Regions from separate parts of the Homo sapiens genome. Here region 1 is linked to region 2. The links come from fine-mapping of genetic effects on gene expression. A gene starts in region 2. The other region holds a variant in brackets. All regions are shown on one strand. Distances are from middle to middle. Region 1 overlaps LOC124902874 (a long non-coding RNA gene). Region 2 holds the start of CLEC12B (C-type lectin domain family 12 member B).

What was found. PIP is the estimated chance that this variant, and not a neighbour inherited with it, causes the effect.
Region 1: its variant is fine-mapped to the expression of CLEC12B in whole blood (INTERVAL, PIP 0.97). The same link has a PIP of 0.9 or more in monocytes.

The regions. Positions count from the first base shown.
Region 1 is chr12:9,952,368-9,962,728 of GRCh38, forward strand. LOC124902874 (a long non-coding RNA gene) reads left to right here. Exons shown (of 2, transcript XR_007063207.1): 1 at 1-670; 2 at 3,387-4,630. It overlaps CLEC12A-AS1 (CLEC12A antisense RNA 1), which reads right to left and starts at 970. Exons shown (of 3, transcript NR_135047.1): 1 at 183-970. It also overlaps a transcript of CLEC12A not described here. The variant A/G (reference allele first, on the strand shown) is at 6,233.
Region 2 is chr12:10,004,427-10,014,787 of GRCh38, forward strand. It overlaps CLEC12B (C-type lectin domain family 12 member B), which reads left to right and starts at 6,201. Exons shown (of 6, transcript NM_001129998.3): 1 at 6,201-6,424; 2 at 8,359-8,457; 3 at 10,097-10,315. The coding sequence starts at 6,334. It also overlaps a transcript of CLEC12A not described here.

The sequences.
Region 1 (10,361 bases), 52 kb before region 2:
GGTTTCGCTGTGTTGGCCGGGCCGGTCTCCAGCCCCTAACCGCGAGTGATCCGCCAGCCTTGGCCTCCCGAGGTGCCGGGATTGCAGACGGAGTCTCGTTCACTCAGTGCTCAATGGTGCCCAGGCTGGAGTGCAGTGGCGTGATCTCGGCTCACTACAACCTACACCTCCCAGCAACCTGCCTTGGCCTCCCAAAGTGCCGAGATTGCAGCCTCTGCCCGGCCGCCACCCCGTCTGGGAAGTGAGGAGTGTCTCCGCCTGGCCACCCATCGTCTGGGATGTGAGGAGCCCCTCTGCCTGGCTGCCCAGTCTGGAAAGTGAGGAGCGTCTCCGCCCGGCCGCCATCCCATCTAGGAAGTGAGGAGCGCCTCTTCCCAGCCGCCATCACATCTAGGAAGTGAGGAGCGTCTCTGCCCGGCCGCCCATCGTCTGAGATGTGGGGAGCGCCTCTGCCCCGCCGCCCCATCTGGGATGTGAGGAGCGCCTCTGCCCGGCCGAGACCCCGTCTGGGAGGTGAGGAGCGTCTCTGCCCGGCCGCCCCGTCTGAGAAGTGAGGAGACCCTCTGCCTGGCAACCACCCCGTCTGAGAAGTGAGGAGCCCCTCCGCCCGGCAGCCGCCCCGTCTGAGAAGTGAGGAGCCTCTCCGCCCGGCAGCCACCCCATCTGGGAAGTGAGGAGCGTCTCCGCCCAGCAGCCACCCCGTCCGGGAGGGAGGTGGGGGGGGTTAGCCCTCCGCCCGGCCAGCCGCCCCATCCGGGAGGGAGGTGGGGGGTCAGCCCCCCGCCTGGCCAGCCATGCCGTCCGGGAGGGAGGTGGGGGGGTCAGCCCCCTGCCCGGCCAGCCGCCCCGTCCAGGAGGTGAGGGGCGCCTCTGCCCGCCCCCCCCTACTGGGAAGTGAGGAGCCCCTCAGCCCGGCCAGCCACCCCGTCTGGGACGGAGATGGGGGGTCAGCCCCCCCGCCCAGCCAGCTGCCCCGTCCGGGAGGGAGGTGGGGGGGTCAGCCCCCCGCCTGGCCAGCCGCCCCGTCCGGGAGGGAGGTGGGGGGGTCAGCCCCCCGCCTGGCCAGCCGCCCCGTCCGGGAGGGAGGTGGGGGGGGTCAGCCCCCCCGCCCAGCCAGCCGCCCCGTCCGGGAGGTGAGGGGCGCCTCTGCCCGGCCGCCCCCTACTGGGAAGTGAGGAGCCCCTCTGCCTGGCCAGCCGCCCCGTCCGGGAGGGAGGTGGGGGGGTCAGCCCCCTGCCCGGCCAGCCGCCCCGTCCGGGAGGTGAGGGGCGCCTCTGCCCGGCCGCCCCTACTGGGAAGTGAGGAGCCCCTCTGCCCGGCCACCACCCCGTCTGGGAGGTGTGCCCAGCAGCTCATTGAGAACGGGCCAGGATGACAATGGCGGCTTTGTGGAATAGAAAGGCGGGAAAGGTGGGGAAAAGATTGAGAAATGGGATGGTTGCCGTGTCTGTGTAGAAAGAAGTAGACATGGGAGACTTTTCATTTTGTTCTGCACTAAGAAAGATTCTTCTGCCTTGGGATCCTGTTGATCTGTGACCTTACCCCCAACCCTGTGCTCTCTGAAACATGTGCTGTGTCCACTCAGGGTTAAATGGATTAAGGGCGGTGCAAGATGTGCTTTGTTAAACAGATGCTTGAAGGCAGCATGCTCGTTAAGAGTCATCACCAATCCCTAATCTCAAGTAATCAGGGACACAAACACTGCGGAAGGCCGCAGGGTCCTCTGCCTAGGAAAACCAGAGACCTTTGTTCACTTGTTTATCTGCTGACCTTCCCTCCACTATTGTCCCATGACCCTGCCAAATCCCCTCTGTGAGAAACACCCAAGAATTATCAATAAAAAAAAAAAAAAAAAAAAAAAAAAAATCAAACTGTCAGCTGGGCGCAAGAAACTGAGGTGGGCAGATACTTGAGCCCAGGAGTTCGAGACCAGCCTGGGCAACATGGTGAAACCCTGTCTCTACAAAAAATACAAATATTAGCTGGGTGTAATGGTGCATACCTGTAGTCCCAGCTACTCAGGAGGCTGAGGTGGGAGGATTACCTGAGCCTGGGAGGTTGAGGCTGCAGTGAGCCTTGATCACACCACTGCACTTCCAGCCTGGGTGACGGAGATCCTGTCTCAAAAAAAAAAATAATCAAACTATCATGGAAACTGCTTTATTCAAAATTTTGTTTCACAACCTTTATTGGATTACCTATCAGAACAAATAAAGTTCAACCATGTGAACATGTTCATAAACCAGTGAGTTTGCATTGCTATCTCATGGCTGGAATTTAAAGGTAAAAGCTATTGGATCTTTGTGTGTATGTAGGTATATGTGTCTAGATGTTACGTGTTGTTTTTAGAGGGTAGCAAATTGGCTTATAAATTAAAAAGCGTTCATAAATTAAGTAAATGAGTCTAAGCATTTTTCAAGTTTACATGACTTAAGTAAATCTTTAATAAACAAGAGAGCTTTTAGATCATTTGTAAAATAAAAATAGAAATGCCTTTGGAATTGTCAGCATACTTTTTTTGTTTGGGTTTTACATTTGTCTCTGCTAGATATTTAAAGGTGTCAGGGTTTGACAAAGAGATTATAAGACTATAAACCCAGCCAAGAACAAAATTATCTTTGTGTGATTTTTTGATAAATAAGACTAATTTAATGTCGTTAGGTTAATAAAAATAGCTGAAACTTTTGCATTATTGGTGCAAGTATCCATGTATTTTACTTTATGTTTCTTTTTTTTAAAAACGGAGTCTCACTCTGTCGCCCAGGCTGGAGTGCAGTGGCCCGATCTCGGCTCACTGCAAGCTCTGCCTCCCGGGTTCACGCCATTCTCCTGCCTCAGCCTCCTGAGTAGCTGGGACCACAGGCGCCCGCCACCACGCCCGGCTAATTTTTTGTATTTTTTAGTAGAGAAGAGGTTTCACCATGTTAGCCAGGATGGTCTTGATCTCCTGACCTCATGATCCTCCTGCCTCAGCCTCCCAAAGTGCTGGGATTACAGGTGTAAGCAATCATGCCCAGCCAACTTTATGTTTCTTACTTAGGTGAACATCTAATATATACAAGTTATAAAAATGGTTAACAAGGAAATAATGAATAGCTTTGATATCTCTTTTCTCATAAGTAATATAGATAATTGCTAAAAAAGTGAATGAAATATAAATGGCATAAATGCTCTAAGTGAACTTTTTGTGTAATTTAATATCTTGAAGTTATTTTGGATGCTCATGAGATGTGTGGGTCATTTCCAATTATGAAAGGGTTTCAATACAGAAAGTTAAATGATGTAAAAACCTTAATTCCTTTAAATCTCAGTTTTCCTAAGCAATCAAAAACCCAATAACAATGACATAGAAATTATTTTGATAAAATGTAAAATTTGTTTCTCAGGTCAGTTACCAAAAGGCAAAGAAAAACCTCCTGCAGTGTGATTGCTTCTCCTATCAGAGTCCCATCTCGAAAACCTGAAAATCAAACCTGATAAATGATGTAGACATATCAAGAAAAGCCAAGAGGACAGAATCAAGCTATACTGGAGGAAAACGTTGCTTCTCTAGAATTTTAAAATAAATATTTCAGCATCAGACCATGACAGCAGTTAAGGCAAGAGGGAAAAAAAAGATACAAGAACTGACAAAGTTGAAGGAGATAGTTTCATTTCAGGTTCCTTCAAGGGGAGACAAGCTGACAGCAACAAAACACAAGAAAGCTGCACTTTGGAGATATAGATCTGAGAAGTATTCAAAAAGTAACAGATTATAGAGTCAAAATCAAAACCTCTCATCCAATCAATATTTTAAGAAAACCTTGTTCTAACCCAGGGGACTAATCTATATCTCTCTCCCCTAGTTACTGGATCCTTTCTACCCTGTTTCATAAACAACCTAAGTCTATAATTTGAATTAACCTTTAGATAACTTCTGAGTTAAACAAAATTATTTCTTTAATCAATAAGAACACATCTTCTTTGGCACATTGTACATGGAATCATACAATTTGCTGGAATTCTTATTCTTAGTAATCCTAAATTTTAATGGAAACCTAGGAAGCAAGAAATCCTGGGCTGTCTATCAGATATTAACATTTTATAGATGAGAAACATGAATGTTCTCAGGCCCAGAAAACTCAAGTTGTTTTGGGACCTCAAGAAAAGAGGAATTCACCCAATTCATACAGGTATCTGCAAGCACAGATCAATTATTGGTTGTGCTCGAGAGGCCTTTAAAAATCAAATCTGAGATTCCTTATGAAAAGTTCCAGCAAAGCCAATTTAAAAAAGCCTATATGAACAATAATTCTTGCTTCAGTTTATGCAAATAATCAGGCAAACTATAATAAGATTAAAACAGATTTTGCAAATAAATTGGTCCTACTGTGATTTGCCTTTCATGGAAATGGGGAGCTGGAGAGAGAAACATTATGTTTTGGAAGAAAACTGCAGTACACCTGTTATTAGATTAATCTTTGACCTATGGCAACCTGGTCATCCATGGTATGGAGATACATCTGTGCTGTGCTGCATTCAGTTATTAAAAGTATAAGTTACCAGTGGAATTTAGATATGGATTCATCACCTCAGAAGTTGGTTCACTGGATGCATAAGGAAATAAAAACTAATTTTTAAAAAAGCAAAATTTTCAATCCCTTGGTTTTTGTTATCGATATAAACCAAAATGTATCTGAGGTAGGTCTCAATTAATTTCAAAGTTTATTTTGCCAAGGGTAGGGATATGTGCCTGAAACACAAGTCTGTGCCTTTCTCCAAAGATGCTTTTGAGGGCTTCAATATTTAAAGGGGAAAGGGCAGATATTGGGGAAAGAGGAAGAAATTTTAAAAAGGTGTGGGTAGGGCGGTGGCTCATGCCTGTAATCCCAGTAATTTGGGAGGCCAAGGTGGGCAGATCACCTGAGGTCAGGAGTTTGAGACTAGCCTGACCAACATGGACAAACCCCATCTCTACTAAAAATACAAAAATTAGCTGGGTGTGGTGGTGCACGGCTGTAATCCCAGCTACTCAGGAGGCTGAGGCAGGAGAATCACTTGAACTCGGGAGACAGAGGTTGCAGTGAGCCAAAATCGTGCCACTGCATTCCAGCCTGGGTGATGACAGAGTGAGACTTCATCTCAAAAAAAAAAAAAACAAAAAAACAAAAAAAAGGTGTGGGTAGATAAGAGACAAATGGTTGTATTCTTTTGAGATTTTGATCAGACTTTCACTAAATACACAATTACATGTGAGAGTGGGGTAAAGAAATAGTCACTTATGCCTCAGTCTAGATCAGTGAATCTGCATTTTTATACAAACGAAAGGGCAGAGGAAGCAATCAGATATGCATTTGTTTCAGATGAGCAGAGGGTTGACTTCAAGTTCTATCCTTTGTCCCATACCTGTGAAGATAAGCTATCAATTTACATTGCCAGGGTGAAATTCAATCGAATAAAATGGGAGCCAGGTTTGCCTGACACAATTCCCAGCTTGACTTCTCTCTTTGGCTTAGTGATTTGGGGACCCCAAGATTTATTTTCCTTTCACATCTGTAATAGCTAAAATTAAAGTAGGAGAATATTGGGTCAGGCTTTGAGGCCAAACCAAGCCTAGATGTGGGTCTGTCTGAACTCAGATCACTAGCCTCAAGGCTGCTCATGAAGAAGAAAATTATGCCAGGAAACCAGAAAGTACCTCTGAGATCTGTGGTTTCCTGGAAGGTAGTCAATGTGGGGAAGGAGTGAATTAAAGTGACTTCTGAAACTAGAGGGTATAATGTGAAGGAATTGTTCTATTTTGCAAATCAGTATCATTAGCTTCCTGAACCTTTACTAAAATAAATTGTGAGAGTAATTACTTTAGGCACAATGTCTTTGGTTTTAAATGCTGCAGAGTGGAAGATCCGGTTGATACAGAACCCACGGCTCACAATTGAACAGTTGCAGATGGGTACATATAATCCGGGCACACAGGAGGTTATTCCCAAAAGAACAGCCTACTTGGTGGACTGGATAAAACACTGTGAGAACTATTTACTCTGAGAAGGAGAATTGTCCCACTCCACCTATAAATGCCAAGTGGAGCACTCCAGATGAAGCAACAGATATGCTTCAAATGTAAGCCACGGGGGACTGGCTTTATAATGATGTGGCAGGCCAGGTCACTAATGCAGGCCTCCATAACAACTGTTTCAGTACTGACTGAGTGGTTAAGTTAAATGTTAAAAGGTAAAAAAGCCAGTGGCCTTAT[A/G]CAAACTCTGGATTGTAACAAAAGCCCACCACGAGTTTTGCCTAGGACTTTCCTGGGGCTTGGACCCATGACAAGATAATGAAGGAATTCTTAACAGGACCAGATTAGGATTAAACAAGTTTTACCGGCAGTCTGAAGAAACTTCCCAGGCTTCCACAGACAAGTTTATTGGAGATCTCAAGGAAGTTCCCAAACCTCCATGATTTAGCAGGAGACAAGATAGGGTAATCACCCCAGCACCTGGACCCATATAGATTAAGTAAATTTACTAAGCCTCCAGAGGAAGGTCTTCAGAACTCAGATCTCAGTTATAGATTACAAGAAGTTAATCACTCATGTTTTTAGATGAATGCACTTACACACAGACATATAACTTAGAAGGTAATAAGCTCTGGAAGACTTTGTAATTTTGAGTTGGTCTGGCAATATTTTCCAGGCCTTCTCCCTATAACTTGTTAAAGAAATAAAAACTCTTCCTCCCCAGTTCATCTGCATCTTGTTACTGGGCTGGAAGAAATAGCAGTCTGACCCTCAGTTTGGTCCAGGAACAATGATAGAAATATTAACTTGGCTGGGCGTGGTGGCTCACTCCTGTGATCCCTGCACTTTGGGAGGCTGAGGCGGGTGGATCACATGAGGTCAGGAGTTTGAGACCAGCCTGGCCAACATGATGAAACCCCATGTCTACTAAAAATACAAAAAATTAGCTGGGCGTGGTGGCGGGCACCTGTAACCCCAGCTACTCTGGAGGCTGAGGCAGGAGAATCTCTTGAACCAGTGAGGCGGAGGTTGCAGTGAGTAGAGATTGTGCCACTGCACTCCAGCCTGGGAGAGAAGAGCGAAACTCTGTCTCAAAAAAAAAAAAAAAGAAGAAAGAAATATTAACCTTACTTTTTGGTTTTTGGCTCTTTCGTTGCTTTGAGTTTTAATGGTAATGAGTCCCTGGCACCTCTATTCTTGTGTGGCCTAGAATGTTTAATTGACTATAAGTCTTTTTTGACTCTAAGTCCCTTGGTTACAGGGGTCCCACTGACGAACAGGATGGACTCGGGGCAGGTAGTCATACCACCTTGGAAATGATATGGAACAAAATAAAGTTTGGCAATCAATGCTCCCTCTGGCATATTCCAAGGAGACCTCAGTTTCCAAGAGATAAATCTTACCTGGGAAAAGGTCTTGCCCCTTGCCCTGCTGAGGGTACTGGTAGCTCCCAGAAATGGATTAGCTCTTAGCCCCTTTCAAAATGTTTACTTGGAGACTGTTTTCCTGGACTCTCTGATGCTTGAGGATTTTTTCCTCCCCTGAAACAGAAGCTATGTCATACATGAAACAATTAGGGAATATATTAACTAGTCTCTCCAACAGACTTCATTTCTGTATGGACTTGCCTCTTCCCTGTTTGAAACCAGGGAATCGAATCATACTGAAGACCTGGAAATCCCATCAGGCTGAAGACTAGCTGCAACCACAATAGGTCAGTCTTTTTAAGGTGCTGCTGACCACCCACTCGTCTATCAAGTTAGCCAGTGTTAAACCATGAATTCAACATACTCAGTAAAACTAGTCACTGTGGGATCCCTCCAGGGGAAACAGTCATGCTCTTGTGAACCTATACATGGCCTTAAGTTAATATTGAAAGCCCAGCCAAAGATCCTAGATAAGAAACTGTAAAAGGAATATGCATTTTTCAGTTATTATTCTCTTTAAACCCACAGCTTTTCACATATAAGATATAATGAATCAGGAATACTTTTTGGTAGGCTTAGGATTGTTCTCTTGGATTCCCCAAGGGATCCACTCCAAATTCTCTGGTATTTTAAAATTGGTTTATCTATATTATTTATCATCCTTGTTCAATGTGGCCTAAAACGTTGTTCTAAAACTGAAATAAAAGTACCCAGATCATAGTGCTCCAATGACTACTTCTGATTATAGTGCCACATTTCCATTCCTTATCATTATTCCACCTCACACGTCCTCAGCATGAAGCAGCCAGAAGGATCAATGACCAGATTCTCCATGATTGAGGAAGTGATAAATAGAAAAGAGAGACTGAAACCGGCCCCGTTATCTTATAGAACTAATATTTACAGTTGTTTTTGTTTGTTTTGCTTTGGAACATAGAAATGGACCCTGTCTGGTCTTAAAACTTGAAACTTGTTTGTTTTCCTGAGTTTCTTGCTTAGAAAACCGACTTTCAGGCAAGGAACTGAAACTCATCAGAGCACCACACCCAGGCAATGAGACTGCAGATCCTTCACCCAGCATGATTTTTTCCCTACCTCTGCCTAATTTCTATTTTTCCCCTGTCCACGTAGCATCAAACTCTGTAAAATATTTGAAGAGATTTATTCTGAGCCAAATATGAGTGACCATGCCCGTGACACAGCCCTCAGGAGGCCCTGCGAACATGCACCCAAGGTGGTTCAGGTACACATTGGTTTTGTACATTTTAGGGAGACACGAGGCTTCAATCAACTATAAACATTTACTGATTGGCAATTGGTTGAGTTTATCTAAAGGTCTGGAATCAATAGAAAAGAAATGTCTGGGTTGTGGTAAGAGGTTGTAGAGACCAAGGTTTTATCATGCAAATGAAGCCTCCAGACAGCAGACTTGAGAGAGACTTAAGTATTAATGCCTGAGAGATATAATGAAGCGTGTTCGACACGCACTTCCTGTCATGGCCTGAACCCATCTCTCAGGTTAAATTTTCAAAGAGCTGTGGTTGAAGAGGGAGTCCATTCAGATGGTTGAGGGGCCTTAGAATTTCATTTTTGGTTTACACTCCCCACACAGCTACATTTCTGCCTGCACATAGCTACATTCCTTCCTCACTATATAACCTCCCAATTTTAGTTTGTTGGAGAACAAAGCCAGAATAAAGCCAATCCTAGTCATAGCATTGCAACTTGTATCAGATGAAAGAAACCTACAAAAAGATAATTATAAAATTTAGATAAAATGTATAAAACAACTGAGAAGGCAAAATTTGAGGGGCTCCAATTAATCAAGGTTTACCGCTTATATTCTGTGTGACTGCCAGAAAAAAAGAAACAAAACTTTTTGGTAGGAAGATCATTTAAAATTTCTGTTTTTAATACATAAGGCCTGTTATTTAATAAAAAATTATGAGACAACCTAAAAAAAAAGAATTAAATATCAAAACACCAATTGACAAGCCAAATGATAAAAACTGGCCTACATATGGTTCAGAAAATGATTTCAATAAATCTACTCTTCACCATTCTAATCCCTTTGCAGTGCCCTAGGATGGTGACTGACTCTCATGTATAATATCCCTGGACACTATTGTCCTGAAGCTCTAGGTATGTTTGTGCTAATAGGAAGAATAGGCAAAAGATTTAAAGGTGGGAGAATCCTTCCCTACAGCACTAGGAAATGGATATGGAGTTGTTCTCGCTGAGTGTACCTCCAGGGAGGCAGCCTTCATCAGCTATAGTTTCTGCTGCTTCAGTTAATTGCTACCAGCAATGTTCTCTCAGGCCTAATGTAGTAATGGCTTCCGGCAGTAGCTAGCCCTGGGGTATTTCACTATCCCTCATGGTTTCCTTTGGTCTTATCTCTATCTTGTAAATTGTCCTGTTATTTTATCTTCTTAAATTTTCCTTTTAATGTATAACCGGTTTTTTCTTTTTTTTTTTTTTTTTTGGATCCCAAGTGTGTGTTTCTTTTTGGTACCTGAGTATATCACTGTCACTGTGGTCTCTCAACTTTTAAATTATGTGACTCTGAAGGTGTGTGTCTCCAAATTTTTATCCCTGTGCACTTTTCTTCACCTGTCTTCATTTCTTTCCCTTTTTTCCGTTATAACTTTCACTCACATCCGTGTGAAGAGACCACCAAACAGGCTTTGTGTGAGCAACAAGGCTGTTTATTTCACCTGGGTGCAGGTGGGCTGAGTCCGAAAAGAGAGTCAGCGAAGGGAGATAGGGGTGGAGCTGTTTTATAAGATTTGGGTAGGTAGTGGGAAATTACAGTCAAAGGGGGCTTGTTCTCTGGCGGACAGGAGTGGGGGCCACAAGGTGCTCAGTGGGGGAGCTTTTGAGCCAGGATGAGCCAGGAGAAGGAATTTTATAATGTCATCAGTTAAGGCAGGAACAGACCA
Region 2 (10,361 bases):
AATGGGAAGGTGATCTTCCTCTGGAGTTTGGCCATCCAACGGCCAAACTACTCTCTGACCACTCCCAGCCAAACTCCTCTTGGCGTTCAGAAGTTCCTCCTCTTCTCTCCTTCTCTGTCATGTCATTCCACCTTTCATCTGCTTGTCTTCTCATCTCCTCGTCTGCTCATCTGATCTGGAGCCTGGAGTTCAGGGTTTATATGGGTACAGAATAGGGGGCATGGCAGGCCAAAAGGCAACTTTTTGGGGCATGAAAACAGGAATGTCTGTCCCCATTTGGAGCTGCCAGTCTCCCAGCTTAAGGGTGGGGCACGTGCCAGGGAACCACTCTCTTCTTTATAAATATATATATATAACATTTCAAGTTCTAGGGTACATGTGCACAATGTGCAGGTTTGTTACATATGTATACATGTGCCATGTTGGTATGCTGCACCCATTAACTTGTCATTTACATTAGGTGTATCTCCTAATGCTATCCCTCCCCACTCCCCCGACCCCACGACAGGCCCCGGTGTGTGGTAGGAACAACCCTCTTCTACCCAGTATTTCCCTGTCTCTTGTCTGAATCAAAGAGAAAGTGAAATGATCTAGTATATTTGAATTAAGGATTCACAGAATGTTAAGTATATCTACTATTGTACTTTCCAATTAAAATTACTATAAAACTTCATGGCAGGGACTATTAATTAATCATTTATTTGAACATATGTTTACTGATCACTGCAGATGTCCAAGGCACAATTCTATTTTCTGGGGACCAATGGTTAATGAATTATACAAGCATTTAGCTTATATTATAGTAGAAGGTGGTCAGCACAGATAGTAAAGAAACATAGAAAGCAAAGATCAAGATAATTGTATATCATGGAAAGTGTTATGAATGAAGAAAAGTGATATAATCGAGTTCTTCTGGACAGGCTCAAGCAGACCCTCGTTGTGCTCATGAGGATTGGTTTGTTTAAGCTTCACTGTCAGTGCTTGGACAATTGCCCAGGTTTCTTCCATTTTTAATATGATCCAGAATAATCCAAACTTGCTTCTACGATGACAGCTGCCATTTATTGCTCTTTCTATATGCTTTTATCAGTTATATTTGTGGCAGGAATTAAATTTATGACAGATTTACTATTAAGAAAAATAAAGCACAGAGGTTCAATAACTTGCCGAAAGCCACAAGGCAAGTAAGTGTTGCTCCAGGATTTGAATCAATTTGTCTGTCTTCATAGTGCTTCATTTTAATTGGGATATTTTATTATGCTGGTCAGGTATATTCACCTGATGGGGTAAATATATTAATACATTTCAAAATAAATTCCATCCTATATTCATCCTCTGTCTCCTTCTTGTGGCCATTTATTTTCCTTCTGCTTTTAGTTTATTTTTGTTTCCTTTAAGTCTTTGATACCTCTGGCTTTCATCTTCACTTTTCCCTATTTCTTTTTTGTAAATAATTCGGAATTAATTGTCATTCTTGCCATTCTCTGGGTACTTTCCCATTTAAACCCCACTTTAAAAGTGTCCTCTGAAATAGGCATGAAATGTGAGAACAGAAAGAACAGAGTGAGAATGAATCCTTCTGTCATGTTAACTCAATATTTCTTTTAAGATCTTCTAAATCAATAATACTTCCACATTTAATAACTGTGTTTCCATATTTTCCAAGGTGAACAATATTTTCTGACAAGTTTAATTCATGTGAGAGCAGCAAGAATTGTCAAAGGTGATTCCAAGTTTTTAGCTGAGAAACTGTACGTATGGAGTGTACATTTGTTAAGATGAAGAAACACATTGGGAAAAGGTACCCATTTTTTGATGTGTTAAGCTAGAAAATCCTATAATATATCAAAGTGAATATGCCAAGAATCCATTCAGATACGTGGTCCTGTAGATCAAGCGCTGGTATGGAGATAACAATTTTTGGACATTATCAATGTATGGCTGTTATCTCAAGGCACGAATCTATAAGAAATTAATTCCCATTCTGGCCATTCTCTGGGTACTATTCAATTTAGTTCATTCCAGGATAAGTTTTTTGTTTTTTTTTTAAGAAGACCAAGAATTGAACTCTAGGACACAACAACATCTTAAATTAATTTAAAGAGGAATCAGTTAATCTGAGGGAGGATTGGGTTGTGAGTGAAGCAAAAGGAAAACCAAGAGAATGGTGTCCTAGGGAACAAAGCATTTTGGAGAAGAAAGTTTGTCACGAAAAGTGAATAATCAGTTATTTAAAATTCTGTTTATACGATGTGTAAGATGAATCCTGAGAACTAGCCATTGGATGTGTTTATACTGAGGTAATGTTGACTTTAGCAGGAGTGTTTTTTAGAAATAGTGAAAGAAGGGCCAGGCGTGGTGGCTCACGCCTGTAATCTCAGCACTTTGGGAGGCCGAGGGGGACAGATCACGAGGTCAGGAGATCGAGACCATCCTGGCTAACACGGTGAAACCCCGTCTCTACTAAAAATACAAAAAATTAGCCGGGCGGGGTGGCAGGCGCCTGTAGTCCCAGTTACTCTGGAGGCTGAGGCAGGGGAATGGCATGAACCTGGGAGGCGGAGCTTGCAGTGAGCCGAGATCGCGCCACTGCACTCCAGCCTGGGCAACAGAGCTAGACTCTGTCTCAATAAAAAAAAAGAAAGAATAAAAATAAAAAAAGAAAAAAAAGAAATAGTGAAGGAAAAAGCCTAATTAGAATAGGTTTGGGAAGATCATAGAGAAATTTTTGAACCCATTTGTTGTTAAGAAAATTAGAGAAATGGAGTGATCATGTGTATGGTGTTACGGTGAACAAAAGATGGCTTCTGCTTGTTTTAATATAGGAGATATTATATCATCTTTGGAAGTGAACATAAGTGAACAAGTAGAGATGAAAAAAATGGAAAAATTGATAGAAAGAGAAAAAGAAGGAAAATTACAAGCTTGAAATCTTTAAGGAGATAGGTGGATGGATTTTAATATACAGATGGAGATTGATCTTAGATGAGTAGTACAATTCAACCACTGTTGAAAAGAATACTACCTCATATACTGATGTAGCTGTTTTGGTATATTTGACTAGTGAAACAGAGAAAACTTCTTTCTGAATTTCTTTTTTTTCTTAAGATAATGTTAATGGAAAAGCCAGGTTATCCGTTTAGTTTGTAGAAAGAGAAGACAGAAAGAAATTTGAGAGTCTGAGAAAGAAAAAGAGATTGGGAATAATCTTTTAGGAGATTTGCAGAACAGATTGATTAGTAAGAGTGCTGAGAAGTTACATTTCAAAAACGTAAGATAAAACCAGTTAATATGATCACATTCAGCTACTTGAATGTATGCACAGAGTAGGTAGGGTTGGATTTAAACAAGCTGCATTTTCTAGATGCTTATGATGAATGAAGAGGTAAGCAAGGAAGTTGTAGCTGTGGGTAAGAAAACGATTTTTATAATTGGCCCTGGTAAGTGGTGCATGCTGGGTATAATAGGAAATGAGACATGAGGGATTGACAACAATGAGAAGTTGGCATGGTCAGTGAAGTTGCTATCTCAGTGGGCACTGAAATGCTGTAGAGTGTAGAATACCCAGAGAGAGTGGGCTGGAAACATAGGAGGTGGAGGTCAGAGAGTGAAATATCTGAAACAGATCATGGAAGAATTTCTCATATTGGAAATGAAATTGTCTGCACTCTAGTGCAGTGCTGTTCAATAGCCACGTTGCTAATAATGGAAATGTTATTTACCTGCACTGTCCAATTGCATAGCCAATGCCACCTGTGGCTGTTAAGTACCTGAAGTATGACTAGTGTGACCTAGGAAATAAATTTTAAATTTAATTTAATTTTAATTAATTTAAGTTTAAATAGCAATTATATGCCTAGTGATTACTACGGTGAATAGCCTAGCTCTAAACTAGGATCATCTAGTGGGTGACTGATTTTTGTGTGTGAGCAACTGATTTCTGAGTGTGGGTAAGGTTATTGGAGGCAAATTCAAGAACTGAGAGCCCATAGTATTGGAATTATCACCTACCTGAATGTCGAAATCACATGATAATCATGATAGGAGTAGAGATCAATAAGATTTAAGATAGTTGAAAAAATAATGAAGAAATAAGGAGAATTTGGTAAATGACTGCAACAAAGTGAGTTTTTAAATAGTGTAACTGATAAAATAAGCTACAGAAATGCTGTAAGTTTTTAAGGGAGAAAAGTATATAAAGAAATGTCTAAATTAATATGATCATACACTAATAATGATAGATGATATAGCTTTTTGGATCATAATAATAGAAAGTATGTGAGAAGTGTTATCAATCTTCTCTTAGAAATAATTAGGAATCAGGTGACATTCTTCATCATTGTTCAAGCTAAGCATCATTTCATGGATAGTGAGAAGTTAATACTTTGTTAGGAAGCTTTAAGGTATGTGAAAGAATTAAGGAAATGAGGATGAAAACCCAGTTTTTGCAAAATCTGGTGAAAGTCATGAGACGTGAGGCCAGCCAGACTTCCTGAATCGAGTGGGGACTCAGGGAACTTTCCTGTCTTACAAGAGGATTGTAAAACGCACCAATCAGTGCCACGTAAAACGCACCGATCAGCGCTCTGTAAAACGCACCAATCAGCAGGATTCTAAAAGTAGCCAATTGCGGTGAGGATTGAAAAAAGGTCAGTCTGATACGACAGAAACGGAACATGGAGGGGACAGTAAGGAAATAAAAGCTAGCCACCCCAGCCAGCAGCAGCAACCCGCTTGGGACCCCTTCCATGCTGTGGAAGGTTTGTCATCCTGCTCTTCACAATAAACCTTGCTACCACTCAGTCTTTGGGTCCGTGCCATCTTTAAGAGGTGTAACCCTCACCGCAAAGGTCCGCGGCTTCATTTTTGAAGTCAGCGAGACCAGGAACCCACCGGCAGGAACCAACTCCGGACACGGACCAGAACAGAGATAGAAAACCATTCTTAATTTCTTATTTTTGTAATCATCTATTTAAACTGGTCCTCATGTCAATGGTCTCTGCCTTTTCTGAATTCAACTAGAATAGTAAACATAAGCATAGATTTATTATTTGTTTCAATATTTTTGATAGTGGAGTTTTATTGATATATGACTTAGAGCCTCCAAACATTTTTTTGATTATTTCATCAATTTGAAAAAAAAAAAAACAAAAAACATGAACAAGTAACATATGTATATTTAGGTGTTTAGAGATCATGCACAGCGTTCCTAAAGAGAAAGTTTTTACATTGCCTTTCTGCATCTGCTTCACAGCTGTGGGGTGAGTGCACCTCACGCTGGACACCTTTGACTAAGATAATCTCCACACAGATATGAACCTTGGAAGTTTTAGATCACTCCCCACTCATCTGAAACCACAAAACTCATACCCAATCCTTCCCCTAAGTACAGTTATCTAATATTCTGCCTCTCCCCAAAGGAAAGCTTTAGAGGAGATTCCTTAATTTCGTCCCTCATATATAGCGCTCCCCCCCCATATTTTCCTGGGTTCTGTATTAACTACATATTGCTGCTGTAACAAATTACCACAGATGTATTAACTTCCGGTAGTTATCTTTTTAAAATCTTGTCCTGTGTATTCCTTGCTGTCTGCAGGATTATCCCATGGTTGTTGTTCTGTTAGGAACTTTCCCAACCATGCCAGAAGAGGGCACTCCCATTCATACTCACGTTAAGTAGCTAAGTAGCTATCAGTTTCTTCTCCATGCTCCATTACCAACACCATGTCTCTCTCTCTCTGTCTCTCTCTCTCTGTCTCTCTCTGTCTCTCTCTCACACACACACACACACACACACACACACACACACACGCTTGAATTTTCTATAATAGCAGCCAGGTGTGTGGCACAGCTCTTTCTGTCTTAATGTGTGTCTCTCTGCTTAATATCTAATGTGGCTGAGAATAAACTAGAACCAATGTCTCCAGGCAGATTAGCTAGCCTTAGATAGATGTAAAGAAGACAACCTGACTCTTTTCTGAAACATTCAGAGCATCCTCTACCCCGAGGATCATGGGAATTCCCTCATGTTCCTCCTGCTCTGCCTCAAGCACCCCTTCTTTGCTGCACAGCAAGAAACAGTTCTGACAGAGCAGACAGTTTGAGATCTGTAACATTCTAATGAGAATATCTCTAAGGAGAATATTTGGCTTTTCTCACTTTCTCTGTAGAGAAACAAATTGTCATTCTTCTCTTACAGAGGGGCAGTAGAGTGTGTCTGGGTCAGCTGAGTGACTACATCAAAGCTCCCAGCCTTGAAAAACACATGCTGTTCCCAGGCCTCAAGATATTGAAACATTAATTAGATAATTTAAAGTAGCGTTTTCTTCTACAATGTCTGAAGAAGTGACCTACGCGACACTCACATTTCAGGATTCTGCTGGAGCAAGGAATAACCGAGATGGAAATAACCTAAGAAAAAGAGGTAGGAGTTCAGAGAAGACCAGCTGTGTCCTTGGGGGAGTGGACAGGTGTTAAATGCTTTGAGGTGCCAGCTTTAATACTGGCGTTAAAGACATGTGCTGTGAAATCTCCAAAATGGGGACAAATAGTTGTGGAATGTATTAGAAAAGTGAGTGTTCCCAAGGTTGAAGTGAAAATATGTGGCTTTCAGAACCTCTTTAAAGTTGTGTGATATCACACAGTCAGAGAAATTCTGACTGCACATGCCAGAAATTGAGCTTGGGGAATTAGAGATTTCTTCTTATGAATATAATCCTTGATATTTATACCTTGTTAGAGATGCCAGGAGGATATTCTTTCAGAAACCAGATTGGAGGCTTCTAAAATAGAGAAGGTAGAGGACGTTTTTCTTTTAGATGATGTAAGTTACTTAAGAGAAAACTGGAAGATGAGTGAGTGGATTAGAAATAGATCAGAGCTAATTTTTCTTTTGTCAGTATTTTTTCAAATTTTAGGGTAGTTGAAATCCGAGCATAATTTGTAATGTTGAACCAGTAATAATAGTATCTGGGTAGTATTTTATGTACATTATATACAGATATAATTGTAATGAAAATCCACAATAATATTCGAATATTAGTATTTTCTCCATTACATAGATGAAAAAACTGAGGGTGAGAGAAATTAGATAATTTAAGCAAGCTCACACAACTGCTATGTGGGGAAGCCCAGTCTCAGTGCTGGTCTTCAGCTCATTCTCTTATGCCTAATTGGAAAAATAGCAGTCTCCATGGTCAAGACTCTGATTTAATATATAAGACCACATCTCTTATTTTCAGATATGTTAACTATCCAGGTTCTCCTGAATCATGTCAGTCATCTGAACTACTTTCTCCTGCCCTCTAGATTTATCTTTACATTTTGTGTGGTGCATGACATTTGAGGGAAGGATATTTACAAAAAGCCGATGGGAATAGACTTTGCATATGTCTAATAAATGTGGTTACACATTTTTGCCTTGTTTTGTTTTACTTTTTAATTCTAATTCTAACCTGTGAGGAAAAAGGAGGTGTGGATATGGTGCATATCACAGTGTACCTAGAGTCTGTCATGCTGTATCTAAAACATTGCGCTAGATGTTATTTGGACCTAAATCAAGGGATATGAAGCTAAGGAAAACATGACAACCATTGATATTTTAAACAACAACAATGACTAGGATGCTAACGGCTTTCTGGTCTATTCTGCTGTTTGTAGGTTAGACTGCACATTCTTTCCTTCTTTCATTCAGTATTCATTCATTATTTATTAGGTGATAAATAGCATGAATAATAGATAAGTTATTGTTAACAGGTAAAAGATACTTTAAAAAGTCGAATCCACTTTTACAAGGCAGATAGAACATGTGCCTTATAGAGACTTTTGAGCTCAAAAGCTTGAGGTGTCTCCTACTGTCAGCATCATCCAGAAAAGCAGTTTTTAGATCTCTCATTTATGAATTCAATAAACTTGAGGAAGAAAAGTGGGCAATGATGTAAAACAAAAACCTTGAAATTAGGAGAAGCTTCCTTTTTATTTTATTATTATTATACTTTAAGTTTTAGGGTACATGTGCACAATGTGCAGGTTAGTTACATATGTATACATGTGCCATGCTGGTGTGCTGCACCCATTAACTCGTCATTTAGCATTAGGTATATCTCCTAAAGGTATGCCTCCCCCCTCCCCCAACGAAGCTTCCTCTTAAAGTGAAGGAGAGCGGTGGAGAAATGGAGGGGAAACAAGGATGGCACCCTCATTGCACTTCATATTAGGTATTTTCTAAATGAGGGCATTAAAGAAGCAAGAAAGAAACGTTAGTATCGGGAAGCTCCCTAAGTGGGAGAAATAAACAAACCAAAGTGAAACAAGCACAAAGCAGTTCTGTGTGCTGATTGCTCTTTTGGCTTTCTCCAGGGCATCCAGCTCCATCTCCCATTTGGCGTCATGCTGCTCTGGGTCTGGTAACTCTTTGCCTGATGTTGCTGATTGGGCTGGTGACATTGGGGATGATGTGTAAGTATATCAGCATCAAACCCAACAAAGGCAACTAGAAAACATATTGTAAACCATGTACTTTCAGCTTGGATTGTAGATGGGTCCTAGCATCCTGAATCGTCTGATACTTTTCTGCTGTCTCATATCTCTCCTATTCGTCATATCTTCCCAAAAAACCGGCAAAAGACATTATCAGGATTTGGTTCTAAATTCATTGTTTTATCTTGATAAGCTAAACTGGACTTAGACAAAGACTCTTTGTTTCCAGTTATTCATTAGAATAAAGAGCCTCTTTTCTGCCTAGACACACATTCACTTATCATTCCAATGCTGAGAAATAAAGTCAAGAAATATGTATTGAAGGAAGTGCTTGCTATTTTTATTTACCTGAAAGACTTAACACTAGACTAGGTTCAGTCTGCTTACATGAAACTTCTCTAGTGGAGAGAAATCTTCCAAGTAGCAGCAGCAGCCTGATTTCTATGAATGAGAAAGACATATAAACAAAGAGGAAGAGTGGCCTGATACACCTTACCAAGTAAGAGAGTTGAACCATCTCCACATGACAATGGAAGCTCCACTCTCAAGCACCACAGCCACAAAGGAACATTCTATTGATTCTGACCCATCCTCGGGAAGTTGGGGATGAACATGGTAGGGAGTTCTTGAGTAATGAGAAAAACATCCTGAGAATACAAACTTTATAGGGTTGTTAAGTATATGGTATACAGAGTAGTGAATTGGCATGGTATTCGCTTACAGGGAACTCACAGTCAAGAAAGTTAATTTGCTGAATGATACTAACATCTCCTCTGCTACATTCATTTCTTTTTAATGATTTAATGGATAATTTTTTAGGATTTAATGGTTAATTAGGATTTGGACATATCTTTGCCAACATAAAAAGAGACTAATGATGTACCTTGCTCTTTTGAAAAGGAATATGATGTTCAAGCAGCAGTAACAGATATTCTGGAGCCAATCAGTATGAGGATTAGCAGCCGATCTTCTACAATAATGTATATTTAAAAATTAAGTGAAAATGCAATAACGTACGTCCATTGGTTCGATATAGAAGGGTGACATTTCTTTTCTAAAATTTAGTGCTTTTGGTGCAGTGGTTCTTAAATTTGTTGTGCTGATGAAGCACCTTAAATGCTTATGAAAAGGGCATATTTCATGGACCCATGACGAGAAATGGTCTGATATGCCATTAAGATCTGCTTTTTCTTTTCTTTTGGTAAACAAGCATCTCAGGTCATCTGCAGAGTTTGAGATATCCATTGTCCCAAAGAATGCTGTTTTCATTAAAACAACAATTACATCATCTATCTCCAAATAAAATAAAACAAAAATAAAACAATTTCATGAAAATGAGTGGCAGAATGACTGGCCCTTCCTTAGATGTGATGTCAGAAATATATCATTATTAAATCATTATTTTAATATAGTGCAATAATAAAAATGTAAATAAAATTATAAAGAACTATAAATAATTTGGAATAGAAAGGCATCTGGTTTGTTTCTTTCATGATACCTCAAATACTAAGAGCTACTAATAAATCTTGAACAATTAAGAAATGTTTCTGTCACGAGAATTATCTACAGTTATAAGAATAGAAGAATATATGAACTTGTCTCCTGTCATGTCTTGGAGTTTTGCAGATATCTAATGACATTAACTCAGATTCAGAGAAATTGAGTCAACTTCAGAAAACCATCCAACAGCAGCAGGATAACTTATCCCAGCAACTGGGCAACTCCAACAACTTGTCCATGGAGGAGGAATTTCTCAAGTCACAGATCTCCAGTGTACTGAAGAGGCAGGAACAAATGGCCATCAAACTGTGCCAAGAGCTAATCATTCATACTTCAGGTAATCAGACTTAGTCCTGCTGACCAGTCAGATGGCATATGTTATC